Regions from separate parts of the Homo sapiens genome. Here region 2 is linked to region 1. Evidence: fine-mapped expression QTL. A gene starts in region 1. The other region holds a variant in brackets. All regions are shown on one strand. Distances are from middle to middle.

Region 1 (8,325 bases):
TATAGACGTGAGCCACCACACCTGGCCCACATACAATTATTACAGGCTGGTCTCGAACTCCTGACCTCGTGATCCGCCTGCCTTGGCTTCCCAAAGTGCTAGGATTGAGCCACCGCACCCCACCCCACATACAATTATTAAAAGAGCACACCCGGAGGGGTAACAAGATGGTAACTGAGATGGTGGAGCTCCATAAGCTGAAGCTTGCTAAACTAAAGCAAGAATGTCTTCTTGTGGTTTGGAGACCAAGGGAATAAAGCAAGATCTTATCCACAGACTCCAGGCATATCTTGAAGAACATGCTGAAGAGGAGGCAAATGAAGATGTACTAGGAGATGAAACAGAAGAAGAAAAAAACCCCTTGTCAAATAGGAAGAACCCCCTGAAAAAAACTGTTGATGTGGCAGCAGAGAAGAAAGTGGTGAAAATTACATCTGAAATACCACAGGCTGAGAGAATGCAGAAGAGGGCCGAACAATTCAGTGTACCTGTGAGCTTGGAGAGTAAGAAAGCTGCTCAGGCAGCTAGGTTTGGGATTTCTTCAGTTCCAACAAAAGTCTGTCATCTGAACACACCTATGGTTAACTTGGATAAGCCGAAGGAAAGAGCTCAAAGATTTGGTTTGAATGTCTCTTCAATTTCCAGAAAGTCTGAAGATGATAAGAAACTGAAAAAGAGGAAGGAGCGATTTGGGATTGTCACAAGTTCAGCTGGAACTGGAACCACAGAGGATACAGAGGCAAAGAAGAGGAAAAGAGCAGAGCGCTTTGGCATTGCCTGATGAAAGGTTCTTGATACTTTCTGTTCTCCAGTGTTTTCCACTTCTCTCATTCTTCTTGGTCACATATATACTAAATGCAGTCTTGCCTTGCAATGAGGGAGCAGGTACCCCAGGTAAAACTGTGAACTGCCGCGGCAGTTTGACTTATTGCTGTTTCAGCTTTAAGGTTGTTGTGTTTTTGTTTTTGATTATATTGCTTGTTTTTTGTTTTTTTTTTTTTTTTTTTTGAGACGGAGTCTCGCTGTTGCCCAGGCTGGAGTGCAGTGGTGTGATCTCGGCTCACTGCAGGCTCTGCCCCACCGGGGTTCACACCATTCTCCTGCCTCAGCCTCCCGAGTAGCTGGGACTACAGGCACCCGCCACCTTGCCCAGCTAATTTTTTGTATTTTTAGTAGAGACGGGGTTTCACCGTGTTAGCCAGGATGGTCTCGATCTCCTGACCTCGTGATCCGCCCGCCTCGGCCTCCCAAAGTGCTGGGATTACAGGTGTGAGCCACAACGCCCGGCCGATTATGTTGCTTGTTAATAAAAAAGAAAAGAAAAGAAAAAAAAAGCACAGCCTTTCATTCCCACAGTCGGAGTGTGCTGGAATTCAGTGGGCTCCAGGGACCAGCTGTTCTGATGAGTCCAGGAATTCACCAGCCCCAGCTGCCAGACTAAACTGACCTTGGCATCAGAAACAGTTTCCTCTACAAGTAACCATTTTAGAATTGCTGAAAAACCAATGACAGCATCTCTGAAGCCCACTTAACATGCCTCCCCTTGCTAAATCACAAAAGATTCCTTGGCTTCTTGGAAGCAAGCAGATTTTGCTAGGACACAGCTGAGGTTATAGAACTTATGGCTGTCACAGGGAGGTCACTCCATTTGCATCTCAAAAAGTCTGAAAGTGGCCAGGTGCGGTGACTCACGTCTGTAATCCTAGCACTTTGGGAGGCTGAGGCGGGTGGATCACTTGACATCAGGAGTTCAAGACCAGCCTGGCCAATATGGTGAAACCCCATCTCTACTAAAAATGCAAAAATTAGTCAGACATGGTGGCACGTGCCTGTAATCCCAGCTACCTGGGAGGCTGAGGCAGGAGAATCACTTGAACCCAGAGGCAGAGGTTGCAGTGAGCCAAGATCGCGTCACTGTGCTCCAGCCTGGGTAACAGAGCAAGACTCTGTCTCAAAAAAAAAGAAAAAAAAAATTCTGAAAGTACTTCTGGTCTCTCTCTTTAGAGGTTAGAGTTGCTTCTGCTCAGAAATACACAGTTCTGGGAACTGAGTCTCATGTGGATAGGATGAGTATGCCTTATGGGCAAAGTGACAGTTCTTCCCAAAACTCAGATGGGGATGAAGAGGAGGGATGGGTGAGGAAGGGCTGTGGCCTCACTAGGCTTTAACTGAACAGGATATGGACAAGCAGCGAGTGTGGAGGGTGCCTACCGACTCTGAAGCCCTGGCTGGAGCAACACCCATGGCTAGGTGTGTCCCGGGCCTCAGGAACAGGTATGTGGGCCCCTCGCCACTGTACCTCCCCTCACAGGCTTGTGGATGTGTCAGATGGCAGAAGGGTGGGAGGAAAAGAGCTGCCCTGCGTGGGTGGTTCCATGGTCTCAAGCTAGTGCCATCAAGACAGGAAAAGGCCGGCTGGGCACAGTGGCTTATGCCCGTAATCCCAGCACTTTGGGAGGCCGAGGCAGGTGGATCATTTAAGGTCAGGAGTTCAAGACCAGCCTGGCCAACATGGTGAAACCTCATCTCTACTAAAAATACAAAAATTAGTTGGGCGTGGTGGTGGGCGCCTATAATCCCAGCTACTCAGGAGGCCAAGGCAGCAGAACTGCTTGAACCTGGGAGGTGGAGGTTGCAGTGAGCCGAGATCGCACCATTGCACTCCAGCCTGGGTGACAAAAGCAAAACTCTGTCTCAAAAAAAAAAAAAAAAAAAAGACAGGAAAAGGCCACATGTGCAGGGATGATCACAAGAGTCGAGGGGTAGGTAAGAGGGGGTGTGTGTGTGTGAATTTGAGCAGCTGCTTTTTAGGGAGTGTACAGTGGTGATGGTGTTTGTGCCTGTGTCAAATAGGGTGGTCTGATGATGTCTCCTTATAAGCACTATCTTGTCTTCTTGAAGACTTAATTAATTTCCAATGAAACTATCTTGTACAGAACTATCACCATGTAAAGTTGTGGGACAGGCAGGAAAAAAAAAAAAAAAAAAATATATATATATATATATATGCCAGGTGCAGTGGCTCATGCCTATAATCCCAGTACTTCCGAAGGCCGAGGTAAAAGGATCACTTGAGCCCAGGAGTTCAAGACCAACCCTGGGAAACATGATGAAATAGTGTCTCTACCAAGAAATACACACAAAAAAATTTGCCAGGCGTGTTGGTGCATGCCTGTGGTCCCAGCTACTTGGGAGACTGAGGTGGGAGGATTGCTGGAGCCTGGGAAGTCGAGGCTGCATTGAGCCATGATTGCGTCACTGCACCCAGCCTGGGCGACAGAGGGGCCCCTGTCTCAAAAGCAAACAAACAACAACAACAAAAACACATAAAGGGACAGACTCAGAGGTCACATGTGCATGAGAAGGTGTGACCGCCTGAGGGGAGTGAGGCTGCTGGGAGCGGTGGGAGACCCCGCTGGTAGTTGTGGGCGACAGCACACAACACTGGAGAGCTTGCCCGCCTCTGCTATGCACTGAGTGATTGTCAGCAAGTCCCTTCCCCCGCTTGGGTCTCAGTTTCCCCATCTGTGGATTGAACTCAGTGACTTCCACAAGCCCCCAAACTTTAAGGTTATAGCATTAGATTTCAAGTATGTCCAGATAGGAAAGAAGACACAAAGAAAACTACTGGTTTCTTTTAAAGTACAAGATATCCCACCGAGTAGGAGGTGGGAAGCCAGGAGCCACCATATGAAGGGGAGCAGTGAAGGGAGTTCAGGCCAAGGGTCCACACCAGCTGCTGGGTGTGATGAATAACTCAGAGTTGGGGTCCAGAAAAAAGTAGGGACGGGCCAAAAACTAGGGATGAGCTCCCAGGAGAGTGAGTCCTAGAAGGGAGTTTGAGAGTCTAGCTGGGGTCTCCTACAGAAAGGTGGTCCTTCCCTCAGCACATCTCCTCCAACCGCCTAGTTTTGATGAAATCAAGAAGAGACGCTCAACGTAGCGGGTGTGATATCCTAGTACTCTCCTGCAGTTGGGAGAGTGTTGAGGGAGAGTTCCAATCCAGGATAACCCACCCTTATTCAAGAATTAAGCGAACAGACAAGGTCTACCCTCCTACAGATTACCTTTGAACAGCCGCAGAGGGCCAAAGATCCGAGGCAGTGAACTCCTGAGTCCGAGTGAGGGTAAAAGGAGTCCCCAGACGGTGGAAATGGGGGCCTGGGAGTCAGGAGTCCTGAAACCAAGGGGAGCGTCCCGGGATCCAGAAGAGGAGGTCTCAGGATGGAGTGGGAAGAGTCTCGGGACCACAGATGAGGGAGTTCGGTAACTAAAGGGGAGGATCCCAGGACCCGGAGGAGGTGGGAGGGACTCTCAAGACCTAGAGGGAGGAGTCCTGCGACCAAAGGGGAGGGGTCCCAGGATCCAGAGGAAGCCGGGGGAGGTCTCAGGACCGAGGCGAGGGAGTCCCGGGATCACAGAGGAGCGGGTCCCGGGTTCGAGTCGCTCTTGCCCTCCCGCCCGGGCCCCGCGCTCACTGTCCATGCCGGGGAAGGGCAGCGGCTGCGCCCCCAGCTGCTGCTCCACCGCGATCTCCAAGTCAAACTTGATGTGGTCCACGCTGGCGATGATTTCCTGCATGGCGGCGGCGGCGGCCCCACCGGCCCGGCTCCCCCTCGGTCTCCTGCAGCCTTCTCGCCTTTACCCGCCGCCGGCCCCGCCGCACACACTCCTCCTTCGCTTCGCCTCGCCGCCGCCGCCGCCGCCGCCCGAGGGATGCCGGGAGCGCCCGGAGCCCGCGCCGGCCCTTGCGCCTGTCCAGGCACTGCCAATCGAGACTCCGCCGTTCCGCTAGTCCCAGCTAGCCGCCAGCCGAACACCGGCCTCGCCAGAAACCTGAAACCAGCCGCGTGAGTCGGCGACGCGGATTGCGCCTGCGCGCTTGGGGAGAGGGGGACCCGAGGAAGAGACTGGTTCGCCGCGGGGACCGGGCAGGGCTCCCCGTCGGAGTGCACTGCGCCGGACACTTCAAGTGAGTTCCTGTGTGATCCTCGCAGGAGCCCCGGGACCCGGGCCAAGACACGCCAGAGGGGAAGGAAGTGCCCGAGCCGGGATTGGAGCCGGGGGCGTCTGAGGAGGGAAACTGAGGCTGCAGAAGTCCGTGTGGAGAGGGGTCGGCGTTGGCCTGAGGGTCCGGGTGGGCCTCTGAGGAGGGGCGGGTCTCTCCGAGGAAGGACGGCCGCAGCGTGTCTCTAATTCAGGGTTTTTTCTCGCTCTGTGGCCCAGGCTGGAGTACAGGGGTACGATCATAGCTCACTGCAGTCAACTTCTCAGACTCAAGCGATCCTCCCACCTCAGCCTCCCGAGTAGCTGGAACTACAGACGCTGCACCACCACACTTGGCTAATTTTTAAAATTTTATTTTTAATTTTTGTAGAGACGGCGGGGTTGGGGGGGCGGGTGGCGGGTCTTGCTATGTTGCCCAGGCTGGTCTCGAACTCCTGGCCCCAAGCCCAAAGCGATCCTCCTGCCTGGGCCTCCCAAAGTGCTGGAATTGCAGGCATGAGCCACTATACAGCCTAATTCAGGGTTTTTTTTAACCAGGGTGGGGTAATGAGCTTGTGTAGGAACAAAATGCACCCCTATTTTTCTCTATGTGAAGTATAGCATTTCCTTTCCTGATTGCTGGAGCAGCCTTAGCAGTGCCTGAAACTGTGAGGGTGAGTGTAAATGATAGTTCCAGATAACAGTTTGTGCAGGGCCAGGCATGGTGGCTCACACCTGTAACCTCAGCACTTTGGGAGTCTGAGGCGAGAGGATCACGTGAGGTCAGGAGTTCGAGACCAGCCTGGACAGGATGGCAAAACCCCGTCCCTACTGAAAATATAAAAATTGGCCTGGAGTAGTGGCGCGTTCCTGTAATCCCAGCTACTTGGGAGGCTGAGGCATGAGCATGGCTTAAACCCGGGAGGCAGAGGTTGCATTGAGCCGAGATTGTACCACCCCACTCCAGCCTGGTGACAGAGTGAGACGCAAAAAAACCCAGTTTGTGCAGCAACTACAAGGTGGTATCTTAAGCTGTCACTTACATTTATTACTGCTTTGAAATTATGATAGAGTCGGCCGGGCGCGGTGGCTCACGGCTGTAATCCCAGCACTTCGGGAGGCCGAGGCGGGCGGATCACAAGGTCAAAAGATCCAGACCATCCTGGCCAACATGGTGAAACCCTGTCTCTACTAAAAATACAAAAATTAGCTGGGCTTGGTGGCATGCGTCTGTAGTCCCAGCTCCAGGGGAGGCTGAGGCAGGAGAATCGCTTGAATCCGGGAGGCGGAAATTGCAGTGAGCCGAGGTCACGCCTGAGGACAGAGTGAGAGACTGTCTCAAAAAAAAAAAAAGAAAAGAAAAGAAATTATGATAGGGTCTTGTTATTTCATGCATTGAAAATAAGCATCTATACTAGTATAGCAGAAATTTGTTTTTAAAGCATTTTGATGCCATTTCAATATCATTGCTTTTTGTTTTGTAATTCTGTGTATTGTAATTAATGCACGTAAGGCAGGGCATGGAGGCTTACGCCTGCAATCCCAACACTTTGGGAGGCCAAGGCTGGAGGATTGCTTGAGGCCAGGAGTTCTAGACCAGCCTGGCAACATAGGGAGACTCCATCTCTACAAAAAAATACAAAAAATTAGACAGGTATGGTGGTGTGCACCAGTAGTGCTAGTTAATTGAGAGGCTGAGGTAGGAGGATCACTTGAGCCCAGGAGTTGGAGGTTGCAGTGATTGTGCATTTGCACTCCACTGTGCCATCGCACTCCAGCCTGGGCAACATGAAGACCCCATTCCACAAAAAAGAAAATTACATAAACACCATGCTTGTAAGAAGGAGTGGCAGGGCTTGCCAGATGCAGAATGATAAAGGCCCCCTGCACTAGTTTCACAAAAGGTGCTGGTCAGGACAATCATCAATGCGTTACATGGACCTGAGTTCAAAGCCAGCCCAGCCCAAGCTGGCCAGTCTCACCCACTGCACTGCTGCAGGACCCCAGCAAGTCTCTCCCCTTGCTGGGCCTAGTTTTTTGTTTGTTGTTGTTGTTGTTGTTTTGAGATGGAGTCTTGCTCTGTCGCTCAGGCTGGAGTGCAATGGCGCGATCTTGGCTCACTGCAACCTCTGCCTCCCACGTTCAAGTGATTCTCCTGCCTCAGCCTCCCAAGTAGCTGGGATTACAGGGGCACGCTGTCACGCCCAGCTAATTTTTATATTTTCGGCAGAGATAGGGTTCACCACGTCAGGCTGGTCTCGAACTCCTGACCTGAGGGGATCCACCCACCTTGGCCTCCCAAAGTGCTGGGATTACAGGCGTGAGCCACCGCTCCTGACCTACTGGGCCTAGTTTTTAATCTGTTCAATCTGCCATCACTTGTAAGACTTTTCCAATCGCAACCTTCTAATATAACCAGACTCTAAAATACTTTAGGCTGGGCATGGTGGCTCATTGCTGTAATCCCAGTGCTTTGGGAGGTCGAGGCGAGAGGATTGCTTGAGTCCAGGAGTTCAAGACCAGCCTGGGCACATAGCAAGACCCTGTCTCTACCAAAAAATAAAATTAGCCAGGCATAGTGGCTCACACCTGTAGTTCCAGCTACTCGGGAGGCTGAAATGGGAGGATCGCTTGAGCACAGGAGGGTGGGGCTGCAGTGAGCTATGTCTGACCTGAACCTAGGCTTTCTAACCTCTGGGCCCATACTTCTTATTTTATTTATTATTATTATTTTTTTTTTTTTCTGAGACAGAGTCTCACTGTCACTCAGGCTGGAGTGCAGTGGCGCGATCTCAGCTCACTGCAAGCTCCGTCTCCTGGGTTCAAGCGATTCTCCTACCTCAGTCTCCTCAGTAGCTGGGATTAGACGTGTAGCACCACACCCAGCTCATGTTTTTTGTATTTTTAGTAGAGATGGGGTGTCGCCAGGCTGGTCTTGAACTGATCTGCCCGCCTCGGCCTCCCAAAGTGCTGGGAGTGCAGGCATGAGCCACCGCCCCTGGCCTGTTCTTTTTCTTTCTTTCTTTTCTTTTTTTTTTCGAGACAGAGTCTCACTCTGTCACCCAGGTTGGAGTATGGTGGCGCAATCTCAGCTCACTGCAAGCTCCATCTCCCAGGTTCAGGTGATTCTCCTGCCTCAGCCTCCTGAGTAGCTGGGATTACAGGCGCACAGCACCAAGCCTGGCTAATTTTTGTATTTTTCATAGAGACGGGGTTTCACCATGTTGTCCAGGCTGGTCTCAAACTCCTGACCTCAAGTGATATGCCAGCCTCGACCTCCCAAAGTGCTGGGATTACAGGCATGAGCCACCGCGCCTGGCCTGGGCCCATACTTGTAAC
Region 2 (8,325 bases), 25 kb after region 1:
ACAGAAAGTTCTGAAAGAAGAAACACAGTGGGCTGGGCGCAGTAGCTCATGCCTGTAATCCCGGCACTTTGGGAGGCTGAGGCGGGTGGATCACCTGAGGTCGGGAGTTCGAGACCAGCCTGAGCAACATTGAGAAACCCCGTCTCTACTAAAAATACAAAATTAGCCAGGCGTGGTGGTGCATGCCTGTAGTCCCAGCTACTCAGGAGGATGAGGCAGGAGAACCGCTTGAACCCGGGAGGTGGAGGTTGCAGTGAGCCAAGATGGCATCACTGCACTCCAGCCTGGGCGACAAAGCAAGACTCCGTCTTGGGGGGGCGGGAAAGATAGTGATGGTAATGTTAAAGTATCACTGTGAGGACTGAAAGGGACAGGAACTCACTGGTTGTCCTTCCCTGATGTCACCCTGCCACCACCTTGGGATTAGGGCTCCCCACCACCATTTCCTAAGTGAGGAAAGGGGTTCAGTAATTTGCCCAAAAGTGGAGTTGAGATTGACCCCAGACCTAACAAACACACAGCCACACGCTGCCTCACATGGATTCCTGAATACAGGGACCCACTCCCACGAGGGAGAGCCAGCAGGACATCCAGGGACAAAACGACATTCCAGCCCAACCAAATAACATAAGATCCCTTGCAGTCGACTAAGGCAGAATTTTGAGCTGAAAACAACACCAAGCTTGAGTGTCAGACATTACCACTTCCAGCTTGCTTTTGGGCACGCGGCAGATGCAGTTCGTCCCGAAGTTGGTGTCCCGTGTCTGAATGCACCGCAGGCAGCACAAGTTCTCATATCCTTGCTTTTTCCATTTTGCAATCAGGTTTTTGTCTGCATAGCCTTCTTTAATACAATATTCATAGAGTTCTGTCAAAAAGATGGGGAAAGAGCATCAGGCCATGGTCTAAAAACCTTCCCCACCCTTGATCAAAAAAAGCATTCAGGCCGGGTGCAGTGGCTCACACCTGTAATCCCAGCACTTTGGGAGGCCGAGGCAGGCGGATCACCTGAGGTCAGGAGTTCAGGACCAGCCCGGCCAACATGGTAAAACCCCGTCTCTACTAAAAATACAAAAATTACTCGGGCGTGGTAGCAGCTGTAATCCCAGCTACTTAGGAGGCTGAGGCAGGAGAATCACTTGAACCCAGGAGGCGGAGGTTGTAGTGACCTGAGGTCGTGCCACTGGACTCCAGCCTGGGTGACAGCGAAACTCCATCTCAAAAAAAAAAAGGCATTCAGTATTGCAACGGGACAGTCCTTGGAGGAGGAACAAAAAAAAAAAGTACTTAGGCCAGGCAAGGTGCCTCACACCTGTAATCCCAGCACTTTTGGAAGCCAACGCCAGAGGATCATTTGAGTTAAGAAACCAGCCTGGGCCAAGGGCCCATCTCCACAAAAAATTTAAAAATTAGCTGGGTGTGGTGGTGCACACCTGTAGTCACAGCTACTCAGGAGGTTGAGGTGAGAGGATCCCTTGAGCCCAGAAGGTTGAGGCTGCAGTGAGCCATCATTGCACCACTGCACTCCAGCCTGTGGAACAGAGCAAGACCCTGTTTCAAAAAAAAAAAAAAAAAAAAAGCCAAGAGCGGTGGACCACGCCTATAATTCCAGCACTTTGGGAGACCGAGTCGGGTGAATCACCTGAGGTCAGGAGTTCAAGATCAGCCTGACCAATATGGTGAAACCCCATCTTTACTAAAAATACAAAAATTGGCCAGGTGTGGTGGCAGGTGCCTGTAATCCCAGCTACTTGGGAGCTGAGACAGGAGAATCGCTTGAACCCAGGAAGTGGAGCTTGCAGTGAGCCAAGATTGCGCCACTGCACTCCAGCCTGGGTGACAGAGTGAGACTCCATCTCAAAACAAACAAACAAAAAACAAACACACACACAAAACTCAGCCAACGTTGGCTCCCCCTAATTTTCGTGGTAAGAAAAACCATGACTTGCACAGGTTGCGAGAATAAGGATTGTGGTTAGTTCAGTAACTCCAAAAGTGACGCGAGCTTCAAAGTCCAAGAGAGACTGACTAATTACCTCTGCTGATGGCTTTCCGCTTGTAAAAGAGGTCGAAGATGTAGCGGGTTTTCTGGTGGTGGATCCTGAAGATGGGCCACAGAGATTCCACTTTCCTCTTTCCCTCATGCGGTTCTGTTTCAGCTGGGGAGAAACAAAGAGTGTGTTTGGGGGAATAGGGTCGGTCTGCGCAGGATTTTCTTTTTGTAAGTAACTACTGATAATGAATAAATACCACTTTATACCCACTAGGATGGCTGTGGGTGGCAAGCCACCCAGGTGCCGAGGCAAGAAACCGAGGGCACGAGCTGTTCTAGTATAATAAAATAAATAAAATAAGAATAGTTATACTAGATATAGATCTTAGATATGATTATATATGAATATCATTAATCCTTAGTTTGTAGCAATTACTCTTTATTCCAATATTATAATAATCCTCACTCGACAATCATAACCTAGGAAACACCAGGCTATACAGAGATGGGAGCTGAGGGGACATAGTGAGAACTGACCAGAAAACGAGTGCAAGCCTTCTGTTATGCCCGGACAGGGCCACCAGAGGGCTCCTTGGTCTAGCGGTAACGCCAGCATCTGGGAAGATGCCCGTTGCCAAGCGGACCTTGGTCTAGCAGTAGCGTTAGTGTCAAGGAAAAACACCCGCTACTTAGCAGACCGGGAAAGGGAATCTCCCTTTCCCCGGGGGAGTTTAGAGAAGACTCTACTCCTCCACCTCTTGTGGAGGGCCTGACATCAGTCAGGCCCGCCCGCAGTTATCCAGAGGCCTAACTATCTCCCTGTGATGCTGTGCTTTGGTGGTCACGCTCCTAGTCCGCCTTCATGTTCCATCCTGTACACCTGGCTCTGCCTTTTAGATAACAATAGCAAATTAGTGAAAGTACTAAAAGTCTCTGATAAGCAGAAATAATGGCATAAGCTGTCTCTCTCTCTCTGCCTTGGTGCCAGGCAGGCAAGGGCCCGCTTTCCAGTGGACACGTGACCCATGTGGCCTTACCTATCATTGGAGATGGTTCACACTGCTTATCCTGCCCCTTTGTCTTGTATCCAATAAATATCAGTGCAGCCTGGCATTTGGGGCCACTACCGGTCTCCGCGTCTTGGTGGGATTCCCAGGCTCAGCTGTCTTTTATCTCTTTGTCTTGTGTCTTTATTTCTACGCTCTCTCGTCTCCACACACGGGGAGAAACCCACCGACCCTGTGGGGCTGGACCCTACAGATGACTATAATCAAAATTATGGCACAATAACAAGTGTTGGGAAGGATGTGGAGAAATTGGAACTCTCCTACGTTCCTGGTGGGAATGTAAAATGGTGGAGCCACTGCAGAAGAGTTAGGTGGCTCCTCAAGAAGTTAAACAGGGCTGGCCGGAATCGGTGGCTCACACCTGTAATCCCAGCACTTTGGGAGGCTGAGGTGGGCAGGTCACTTGAGGTCAGGAGTCTGAGACCAGCTTGGTCAACATGGTGAAACCCCATCTCTACTAAAAATACAAAAGAATTAGCAGGGCATGGTGGCGCATGCCTGTAATCCCACCTACTTGGGAGGCTGAGGTGGGAGAATCGTTTGAACCCAGAGGCGGAGGATGCAGTGAGCTGAGATCACACCACTGCACTCCAGCCTAGGCAACAAAGCAAGACTCCCGTCTCAAAAAAAGAAAAAAAAGGGAATGAAGTAAGTACTGATATATTCTACAACACAGATGAACCTTGAAACATCAAACTAACTGTGGCAATGGTCGTACAACTTTGTGAATATACTAAAAACCCCTTAATTGGATAATTTAACAGGTTCACTTTTACAGTATATGATTAATATCTCAATAAAGCTGTTATTTAAAAACAGAATAAGCCGCCGGGCATTTTGGGAGGCCAAGGTGGGCGGACCACGAGGTCAGGAGATCGAGATCAGCCTGACCAACGTGGTGAAACCCCATCACTACTAAAAATTAAAAAATTAGCCGGGCGTGGTAGTGCACGCTTGTAATCCCAGCTTCTCAAGAGGCTGAGGCAGGAGAATTGCCTGAACTCGGGAGGTACAGGTTGCAGTGAGCCAAGATCGCACCACTGCACTCCAGCGTGGGCAACAGTGTGAGATTCCGTCTCAAAAAAAAAAA[T/AT]AAAAAAATAAAAAATAAGCTAAGTAATTTAAACATAATTGTTTTAAATTAAAAATGTCTATTTTTGGATCCTTTTGTAATTCATGAGTGTGCTTGGGTGTTCACATCCATGTGTGAGACATGCCACTCTCAAACCTTGTCACAACGTTGGCACATTACCCATGTGACAAGAAAAAAAGTCTTTTTAATTACAGAATTAGAAAACATAGATTTTTAAAGACATTTAATGGTAACTTCTGTTAAAAGGTTGGTCCCGGCTGGGCACAGTGGCTCACGCCTGTAATCCCAGCACTTTTGGAGGCCGAGGTGGGTGGATCACTTGAGGTCAGGAGTTCGAGAACACCCTGGCCAACAGGGCAAAACACTGTCTCTACTGAAAATACAAAAATTATCTGGGCATGGTGGCACATGCCTGTAATCCCAGTTACTCGGGAGGCTGAGGCACGAGAAGTGCTTGAACCTGGGAAGCAGAGGTTGCAGTTAGCTGACATTGTGCCACTGCACTCCAGCCTGGATGACAGATGACCCTGTCTCAAAAAAAAACAAAACAAAACAAACAAAAAAAAGCCAAAAAACCAACCTTGGTCCCTATGCTTTCAGATCTATTTCTACAGCGTAATAATTAATCAAGATAATTCTAGGCCCACAGATGGGCATCCTAATCATCTTGAAGGCACTTCTAATTTCATCTCCCAGCCAAAGTCCTTTAGGGCTGAGGAAAAGCTAAATAAACTAGACCAGTCTACAGGTTCTGAGGGAAGTAGCCACAGCAGAAGCTGCTCCTTCAACACACGCAGGATCAGGTGGCACTCATACTTGCCGCAAGGCAGTTCTCTCTCTCTCAGCAGTCACAAGTTCATCTTTGTCTATGACCTCCTCAGTTTTTAGGGAAGAACAGAAGGGCGAAGAGTGGTCAAGAAGACTATCCCTCCCTGTCTCCAGCTTTTAAGCCATTCTATTACCTAGGAATTACAATTCAGCTCAACAAACAGAATGCTGTGATCCAAGCAGAAAAGCAGGTAGTAAAGATTCAGCAGGTACACATGTTAAGACGTGACTTGCTCCTCCTTGGCCTCTGCCATGATGGTGAGGCCTCTCCAACCACATGGAACGGTAAGTCCATTAGATCTCGTTCTTTCGTAAATTGCCCAGTCTCAGGTATGTCTATCAGTAGCGTGAAAATGGACTAACACACCCCCATCTCTACAAAAAATTAGCCAAGCGTTGGTCGGGCGCGGTGGCTCATGCTTGTAATCCTAGCACTTTGGGAGCCTGAGGCGGGTGGATCACAAGGTCAGGCGATCGAGACCATCCTGGCTAACATGGTGAAACCCCGTCTCTACTAAAAATACAAAAAAAAAAAAAAAATTAGCTGGGCATGGTGGCGGGCGCCTGTAGTCCCAGCTACTCCAGAGGCTGAGGCAGGAGAATGGTGTGGACCTGGGAGGCGGAGCTTGCAGTGAGCGGAGATCGCGCCACTGCACTCCAGCCTGGGTGACAGAGCGAGACTCCGTCTCAAAAAAAAAAAAAAGAAAAAAAAGAAAAGAAAACTTAGCCAAGCGTGGCAGTGGATGCCTGTAGTCCCAGCTGCCTGGGAGACTGAGGTGGGAGGAACACCTGAGCCTGGGAGGTGGAGGCTTCAGTGAGCTGTGATTGAACCACTGCACTCCAGCCTGGGCAACAAAGTGAGACCTTGTCTCAAAACAAAAACAAAAAGAAAACAGAACAAAGAATACTTCTGTCTGGAGGTAAAGAATATCTAAACACAAAGTAGGGTTCCTCCTTCCCTCAAAAGTCACCCTTTAGAAGATGAAGTTAATTTACTTTCAAGGACTTGCAAAATCTCTTCTATTCCAGCATGCTCCCATTTCCTTTATTTTGATAAAGAGCTGTTTCGGGAAGACATCTCTCAGCCCAAAATGACCGTGATTACTGCAATAGGCCCATCCAAATCTAAACTGCAAAACAAGTACTGAGTATTTAATAGAAGTTATCTGGTACGAACAGTTTTTTTAAAAAGGGGCAAAGTAATTTAACATTGATTTAATTTAGTAATTACTGCTGGAGGTACGACCTCATAATAACCATGATTAGGTTAGTTACAAGCAAGCATTTCAAAAGCTACTTTAAAAAGTAACTTCAGCTGGGTGTAGTGGCTCATACCTGTAATCCCATCACTTTGGGAGGCCGAGGTGGGTGGATCACTTGAGGCCAGGAGTTCGAGACCAGCCTGGCCAACATGGAGAAACCCATCTCTACTAAAAATACAAAAATTAGCCGGGCATGGTGGCGCATGCCTGTAATCCAAATTACTCGAGAGGCTGAGAGGCAGGAAAATCACTTGAACACGGGAGGCAGAGGTTGCAGTGAGCCGAGATCACGCCACTGCACTGCAGCCTGGAAGACAGAGCAAGACTCCAACTCAAAAAATAAAAATAAAAAAGTCAATTGGTAAGTGGCCACACTGTGATCATATAAGGCCAACAGATGCTTGTGGCTTCAGATAAAATTTCCAAAGACAGCATAGGACACGGGTTCACAAAGCAGGATCACACGCCATTTACAAGGAAGTGACAGAAAACAGATGCGGCAAAGACTAATCGATGATACTGAAAAGGAATAGCACTTCCAAGTAAATATATTTTGTATGATTTTAAATATATATCTAACCAAAATAGTAAATAACTATAGGTAGACTATTTGATCTATATTTCATAACCTTTTATATTCGAGTTGGCAAAAACAAAAACAAAAAAAAACACCTTTTCTGAGGACCTTTTCATTAATGTTATCTTATTTTCGGGCACTTACAGTATTTCCCCAAGTTCATAAGCAAACACAACATGTCAGTGTTAGTAGACCACTCTCTTTTTATATTTGCATTTATGCCTGTCCCCTGGGGGCATCTAAGCCTGTGACCCTTGGACCCAGCCCACCCAGACAGGAACTCCCCTACTCACCTTCTCTCATCTTTTGATCTAATTCATCCAGTGTTGGCTCAATCAACTCCCAGCCATCTGGGGGTGCTTTCCGGCTTCTTTTGACTTTAGGCATTTTCCTTCCACAGGATAATCTGCAAAGATCTGGGGGAAAAAAATGAATTGGTTTCTGAGTCTCAAATCCCCAAAGGCCTTTGCCAGCCATTATTTCGGTACAGGCTGACTTCCTTGAGTCAGCATAGGGTCACAGCTATGGGACAGGGCTCAGCACCCAGACTGTGTTCAAATCCTGGCTCTGCTACTTACCCGCTGTGATCTTCAGAAAGGTACTTAACCTTCCTAAGCCTCTGTTTCCTCATCTGTAAAATGGGGATAATGGAAGCTACCTTATGTGGTCATTGCAAAGACTTCATTAGAATTGTATCTATCATGCCTGGTGTATAATGTGTGCCTAAGAGACATTTGCTGTTGTCATTAGCTAACTTCAACTAAAAGCTTAACCCTATACTGGATGTTGGGAACACAGAACAAAAGTTAAGCCTTTGCCCCTTAGAAGGTGACATTTTAGCAAAGAGACAGACAAGAGAAAAAGCAATTACAATAGAGTATAAGGAGGGCTGTGACTCGGGGAGCCATGGGGGTGAGTATTTAAAAAGGCAAAGATGGAAGGTCAGGCACGGTGGCTCATGCCTGTAATTCTGGTCTTGGCCAGCACCTTGGGAGGCTGAGATGGGAGGATCACTTGAGCCCAGGAATTTGAGACCAGTCTGAGCAATGAGGTGAAACCCTATCTCTACCAAAAAAAAAAAAAAATCAAAAAAATTAACTGAGCATGGTGGTGGGTGCCTGTGGTCTGAGCTACACGGAAGGCTGAGGCAAGAGGATCACTTGAGCCCAGGAGGTTGAAAGTCTTCAGTTAGCCATGTTCACACTACTGCACTCCAGCCTAAGTGACGGAGTGAGACCATGTCTCAATAACAAACAAAACAAAACAAAACATAAAATAAAAAGGGAAAGATGACTGTAAAATCAAAGTACCTTAGGATGTGCTTTCCAAGAGTATAGACAGCAGAAAGATCTCTCGTCTCTGCAGTTGCAGGCTTGGATTCTTGTTCAGCTCTAAAAAATTATTCTGTGACTTTCAGGTCACCTTCCCTCTCTGGTCCTGTTTCTTCTGTAAAATGAGGGCAGTGGATTGGCTGATTGCCAAGGTCTCTTTCACACCAAACAACATAT

Which allele goes with the higher level. Alleles are on the strand shown, and positions count from the first base shown. SD is a standard deviation of normalised expression in the study named.
In carriers of allele AT in region 2, the expression in lymphoblastoid cells of the gene that starts at base 4,866 in region 1 tends to be higher than with T alone (large effect, 1.1 SD a copy in CAP).

The links.
Region 2: its variant is fine-mapped to the expression of PTCD1 in lymphoblastoid cells (CAP, PIP 0.95).

What each region holds. Positions count from the first base shown.
Region 1 is chr7:99,435,339-99,443,663 of GRCh38, reverse strand. It overlaps PTCD1 (pentatricopeptide repeat domain 1), which reads left to right and starts at 4,866. Exons shown (of 8, transcript NM_015545.4): 1 at 4,866-4,972. All of the region lies in intron 2 of ATP5MF-PTCD1 (ATP5MF-PTCD1 readthrough), which reads left to right. It overlaps CPSF4 (cleavage and polyadenylation specific factor 4), which reads right to left and starts at 4,721. Exons shown (of 8, transcript NM_006693.4): 1 at 4,479-4,721. The coding sequence starts at 4,581. It also overlaps the pseudogene LOC100131859. RefSeq lists silencers at 4,427-4,726, 8,225-8,325 and enhancers at 4,987-5,276, 6,573-7,098.
Region 2 is chr7:99,409,972-99,418,296 of GRCh38, reverse strand. BUD31 (BUD31 spliceosome associated protein) reads right to left here. Exons shown (of 6, transcript NM_003910.4): 2 at 8,128-8,263; 3 at 7,111-7,233; 4 at 2,037-2,159; 5 at 702-868. The coding sequence starts at 7,204. It overlaps ATP5MF-PTCD1 (ATP5MF-PTCD1 readthrough), which reads left to right. Exons shown (of 9, transcript NM_001198879.2): 9 at 1-1,558. It overlaps PTCD1 (pentatricopeptide repeat domain 1), which reads left to right. Exons shown (of 8, transcript NM_015545.4): 8 at 1-1,558. LOC124901707 (a long non-coding RNA gene) reads right to left here and starts at 6,352. Exons shown (of 2, transcript XR_007060451.1): 1 at 6,314-6,352; 2 at 6,002-6,108. It also overlaps LOC124901841. RefSeq lists a silencer at 2,615-2,664. The variant T/AT (reference allele first, on the strand shown) is at 4,151.